Linked DNA regions of Homo sapiens: region 2 is linked to region 1. The links come from fine-mapping of genetic effects on gene expression. A gene starts in region 1. The other region holds a variant in brackets. All regions are shown on one strand. Distances are between the middles of the regions. Region 1 holds the start of CDC16 (cell division cycle 16). Region 2 overlaps RASA3 (RAS p21 protein activator 3).

Region 1 (2,908 bases):
AGGAGGAAAAGGAAATATACAGGGGGACAAATTTTTAAACACAACTTCAAAATATTACCCAGTCATATATGTATACACACACATAGAAAATTACACGGCAGATTACTTACAGTAGCGTGAGAGAATTTTTGAGTGGGTGGGATTCTTTACAGCAAGTTTTTTTTTTTTTGCTTCTTTGAATTTTTTTTACTCTTTTAGGTTTTTATATTTATAAAAGTTATATTTACTTTTTAAAAGTGTCAACCTTAATATTGAGATTCAGAAATATGATTACATATAGTGTGTATTTGAGCACAGAGCCTGAGAATGGCCACCTGGACAAATGGGGTCAGCCTTTCCAAGTGGAGCTCAGGTCTCTCTTACCAGGCGGAGACAGAAGCTCCAGCAGGATCACCACAGTTCTCATATGAGACCAGGGGCACACGCCGCAGCGGTTCCATTGGTTAGGGATCTCTGTATTTGAAGGAAGATTGCGTTATAACTCCATGAGGAGGGGTAGTGATCTGAGGGGGTCTTATCTCCGGTGCCATTTGGTCTTTATTGTTTACAGGGAAAAAGGCAGAAGTTACAGCTGGGTGTGGCATGACCTAGGCCGCGTAGCCACATTCCCCTCAAGGCTCAGGTAATTCAAAGTTCCAACAGCTTCAAGTTTAAATTATTTTAAGTTTGAATGATTTAATTTCACAAAAGGTAATATATGCACATTGACTGAAATTCAAAAGCACAAAAAGATATCCAAGGAAGTACCTCTCCCACTTCTACCATCTCTCATCTTCCAGCACTCCTTCCAGAGGCCTTGCGCTATGCCGGTTTTCTCATTTTTCCTTCCTGGGACAGTTTAGGGATTTTTCTACCTATCATTAAATTCGTATTTTACTCAAATGCAGGCATACGATAAACACGATCCTATACTTGCTTTTTCCCACATACTATATCTTGAAGATCGTTCAATGTCCATGCAAAGCTGACTGTTCTTTTGAACAGCCAGCGAGTATTCCATTACGTGAGCGTATCATGACCTATTTACTCAGTTCCATACTTCATGGGTGTTTAAATTGTCTGCAATCTTTTGCTATTACAAACGAAACCACAGGTCATTTTGCACACATGCAAAAATGCAAATCCATGGTATATTTCCCAAAATAAAAATCATTAGGTTTAACAGCACGAACACCTTTAAATTTGGAAGATATTCCAATTCGTTCATCCTAGAGAGTATACCAATACCACTCACAAAACTTGAGGGTGCCTGCTTCCCGACATTCCTGCTAGCAGTGTCATCAACCTTTGTGATCTTTGTTAACATATGAAAAGTGGTACTCTAATTTTAATTTTTATTATGAATTAAGTTGGACTTTCTTTCGTATGTTAAAGTCTATTTGCATTTCTTTCCCTGTGAACTGTTTTTTGCCTGTCTTTCTCCTGAGCCATTGGTCTCTTCCCACTGACTTATTACATATATGTAAAGGGAATATTGGCTCTACATTATAAGGAAATTCGAATTTTGTGATAGGTTTCAAATTTTTCCCTAGGTTGTCTTTGACTTCATTTGCTGTTTGTGCACACAATTTTTTTTTTTTGTAATGAGAGTGCGTTGCTCTTATTTTTAAAATGTTGACTACATTCTGGGGAAAGAAGGCTCAGCAGCCACCTGCTTTTTTGCCCGGGTGGGTGGTCCGGCCCCGAGCCCTCCTGACTCTCTCGCCAATGCCCAGAGGCGCCGCAGCGATTCCAGGGAGGCCGCGCTCTCGCCCCAAGGCAACCAGAAGCCCACGTGCCAGGAGAGGCATCGGAACCAACAACTCGGGTCCGTTTTCCCGCGCCAGATGGGATTCGTTTGCTGTGGACTTCCGGGGCGGGGCCTGCCTGGAGCGGAAGAGCCTGGGCAGTGCACGGGGCCTGGGTGGGGGGTGCGGGTGTGGGTGGGGACCTGCGGCCTTCGAGTCCGCGGCCTTCGAGTCCTGGGGCGGCGGCGGCGGCTGCAGGCACGGGCACGGGCACGGGGCGGGGTGCTTAGGGTGCAGGAGGCGCGCGCCTAGCGGCGGAGTGTGGCGTGAGGCCGGGCCCGCGCCGCCATGAACCTAGAGCGGCTGCGGAAGCGCGTCCGGCAGTACCTCGACCAGGTGGGCGGCCCCGACTCGGGGTGCGGGGCCCAGGCCTCGCCGGGTCTTTTTCCGCGCGGCGTGGGGCTGGGGTGACTGTTGTCGGGGCTCTTGGTGGGGAAGGACTGGGCCGGCCCTGGGCCTTCATCTGGGGCCAGCAGCGCTGTCTCCGCCTCGCCCAGAAGGGAGCGGTCCCTGCAGCTGGGAGGGGCACAGCCCGGGGAGTGGAGGCCCCCGAGCGCACGGGGCGCCTCAGTCGGGTCTGAGCCTCGTTCTGCACCTGGCGCGGAGGAGGTGCCCAGGAAACACTGACTACTCAGTGCAAGTTGAAGGACAATTTTTGGAGGAAAGTTGCAGGGCTAGCTAATAAAACATTTTTGAGAGGTTTAGTTGTAATTTTTACTGGGCTGAATTTAAGTGAATAAAGATGTGAAGAAGCCTGTTGTCTCAAATCAATACTTTAAAAATTCTCGTTAACTATGTCTGTGTTCTCTGCACTACCTTTGAATAGCAGAGAGCGTTTAAGGCAAGAAGTGTCTTCGAGAATCAGCAGCATCAGTTTTATCTATATTGTTGTTTATTTTTTGTTGAAATGCTTGCTCTTTCAGGAAATTGGAAAGAAAGGGAAAGAAAAGCCATGGTAATGCAGAGTTTTCGGAATTGGGTGCTAACTGACGTGGCCAAATGTTTGCAGTCCATTTGGAGGGCTGTGTTTTTATTTACCATGAGTCAGTTGAATTCAGTGTTTTCTGATCACTTTTTCTTCGGTACGGAGACGTAGTGAGGAATATGACAGGCCCGGTTTC
Region 2 (2,908 bases), 260 kb before region 1:
CCCCTGGCTCCCGACACTGCCTGAGGCCCTGCCGGGAAGTGTGGCTCCAGGAGGACGGGCTGGCCTCCCGGGGAGGATGCCCCCACCTGCAAGGGTTTGTCCACCACCCATAGCCACTCCTGGACTGGGGCAGACCCCACACCTCAGCATGGACTAAGGAGGCCGGCCAGGCTGAACCAAGCCTCACCCTTCCCTGGGAGAAAGGCCTGGGTTGGTGTCCCCAAAGCCACACCTCCTCATTTTTCTCATACCAGAGCTGACTCACAATAGAATTACCAAAAAAGAGGAATTCAAATGGAGCAAGGAAAGGAATAAAGAAATGAGGCAACGTATCATGGAGTCTTCACCCAGAGCCCCCCTTAACCCTCTCCTGCCTGGAGGGACAGCAGCCACCTGCCTAGAGGCGCAGTCCGTTCTCTTCTCCCAGGGCCTCCAAGTGGCCTCCCCCTCTGCATTCCTGGAGATGGCAGCACGTGGTGGTCTGTCTGCCCAGCACTCCTTGAGTGGACACACCTTTCCTGAGGTTATCACAGGGCCGGACTCTCACCTGAGGCACCACAGGTGAATGCCACTGTCAGAGCAGCGCTGCCCATCACCAAAGATGTCAACTGTCACCAGTGATGTCACCTGTCATCAGGGCGGTGCCACCTGTCAGAGCAGCGCTGCCCGTCATGAGGCGTCAACTGTCACCAGCGATGTCACCTGTCACCTGTCAGAGCAGCGCTGCCTGTCACCAGAGATGTCACTTGGCATCAGCAATGTGACCTGTCATCAGGGCAGTGCCACCTGTCAGAGCAGCATCACCCATCACCAGGGACGTCACTTGGCATCAGCAATGTCATCCTGCTCCCCAGGTGCCACCCTCCTCCCTGTACCCCCCACCCCTAATGCCCACATGTGCAATTCCCAGTGGGTACCACTGGAAAACCAAGGCAGTCCTCAGAAAGAATAAAACATCTGTTTTAATTGGCCAGTAAAATACATTGCAAATCATTAGTATTTTATAAACAGAAACATTAAGTTATAAATCCATGTTAAAAATTGCAGCTCAGTGCAGCCCCAACAGCTGTGTGTCCAAAAGTCTATTTTTACAACATTTTCCTCCAGTATTTTTGTGACAAGAAAGTTCCTATCTGCCATCTAGATCAAGAGCCTGAACTACAGTATTTTCAAACAAGAACCGGGAGAAGTCGGTACAAGGATACGTCGTGCTGTGTATTTAAACGGC[G/A]CTTCCCACACACCTGCCGTCTGCATCCCGGGAGGACGCCCTTTGGGAAAGGCCTCCTCGGCAGTGTGAGGTCTGGAGGGGTCTGCCTGGACCCCATTTTTAGGATGCTCCCCTCCCCAATAAAACAGCAGCCCCCGCCCCTGCCCTGCACAGCATCTGGGGGTTCATAACACAGGTGCAATACTGACCATGGGCCCTGGAGGGACGTCTGCACCCCGAAGCCCCTGTACCTCAAACTCAGAGTTTCTTCCCTTCTTTGATTTTCTGGAGGACCTGCAGCTGGCCTTCCTGAGACAGGCTCCATTCCTGTTCCATTTGCCTTCCCGGCAGCCTTCCCTTTAGTGGGTATAGGTTTTGACGTTCTGAGTTACTTTGTATCAAAGAGCTAATTAAAAATGGTCCTTCAAAAACATAAAGAAAAACAGCTTGAAAAATGTACATTTCTATTTTTAAAATCTTCAAACTTCCACGGGGGGTGGCAAATGTTAATTCTGATTTTAAACCCCATTCAACAGCAAAACGATGTGGGCTTCAACTGTGGGCTCCGCAGACGCCTGGAGAAGCTGGAGCCCACACCTTTCCCTCCAAGGGACTCTGTGGACAGAACCCGTATCCCCCAAGCACCAAGGACATCCTCAGACTGGGACTTCTGTGTAATTCTGCACCTCCCAGCCATAAAACTGACCCCTCAGCCAGGAATCAAACGAACCTCGAAAGTGGAACAGGGAGGCCGCCTCCCATGGCTGCCTGGATGGCAGGCACAGTGGGAGAGTAATGCTCTGAACCTCCCAATGTGATGAAGCCGAAAGCCGAGGCGGGGCCAGCAGGCCTCCCGGGCACAGAGCCACAGAGCCCAGCGTCACACGCACCGTGCACGCAAGACAGACGTGCACGAGACTGACGCACACACGGCCGGAGGTGCATGTCACAGTCGACTAGACGGGCCGTGGCTCCCTGAGGCTGGCTGTGGTGTGGCTAGGGCACAGCCCACACTTCCTGATCCTTCAGCTGATCCCCAGATCCCCACAAACAAGGAGCAAAAAGCACAGAATCAAATGACGACACGTTCCACAGGGCCAGGTGGGCTTTCTGCGGAGGGCGTGGCGGTGGTGGCAGCGGTTCTGGGAGAGGGAAACCCCAGCGCCACTTGTCTATGGGCCGGGACGGCGTGCATCTCACTTTGCCGGCTCTGCGCTCTTCCTTCTCTTCTCCCTCCCAAAGGCTGCGGCTTTGCATGGGCAGCTTGCTGGCGCCACTGGGCGCGTCCCGCAGACTTTAAATGGAATGAGTGGAGGTCTCGGACTGCTGCCGGATGTAGTTCTGGAAGCTCTTGTCTCCGATGGGGTGCTCCCTGAAAAGGGGGATGGGAGAGGGAATGAGGCACAGACCCCGTTGCCTGGTGCTCACCCGTGGCTGCGGGAGCTTTTCCTGTTCCTAAATGTGACACACTCACACTGCAATCCACACAAAAAATAGAGGAGCCAAAGGAACCACAGTGCCCCCGGAAGCACCCACGGTGACTCTGATGTGTGTGCACAGGTGGGTCAGGCGTGCAAGTACATGTGCACGTGTGCTCTCCCTGTGGCACGTGTGTAGCGCATATACATGTGCAGATGTGGAATATGTAGAGTGTATGGCACGTGTGCAGAATGTGCACATCTGCACTGCAAAGAGTGTGCT

The links. PIP is the estimated chance that this variant, and not a neighbour inherited with it, causes the effect.
Region 2: its variant is fine-mapped to the expression of CDC16 in substantia nigra (GTEx, PIP above 0.99).

Annotation. Positions count from the first base shown.
Region 1 is chr13:114,233,010-114,235,917 of GRCh38, forward strand. CDC16 (cell division cycle 16) reads left to right here and starts at 1,888. Exons shown (of 18, transcript NM_001078645.3): 1 at 1,888-2,123. The coding sequence starts at 2,076. RefSeq lists an enhancer at 1,687-1,736 and a silencer at 1,847-2,206.
Region 2 is chr13:113,976,844-113,979,751 of GRCh38, forward strand. RASA3 (RAS p21 protein activator 3) reads right to left here. Exons shown (of 24, transcript NM_007368.4): 24 at 940-2,579. The coding sequence ends at 2,504. Among named protein-coding and RNA genes, the nearest start is that of C13orf46, 4.2 kb to the left of the region's middle. RefSeq lists an enhancer at 2,045-2,545. The variant G/A (reference allele first, on the strand shown) is at 1,229.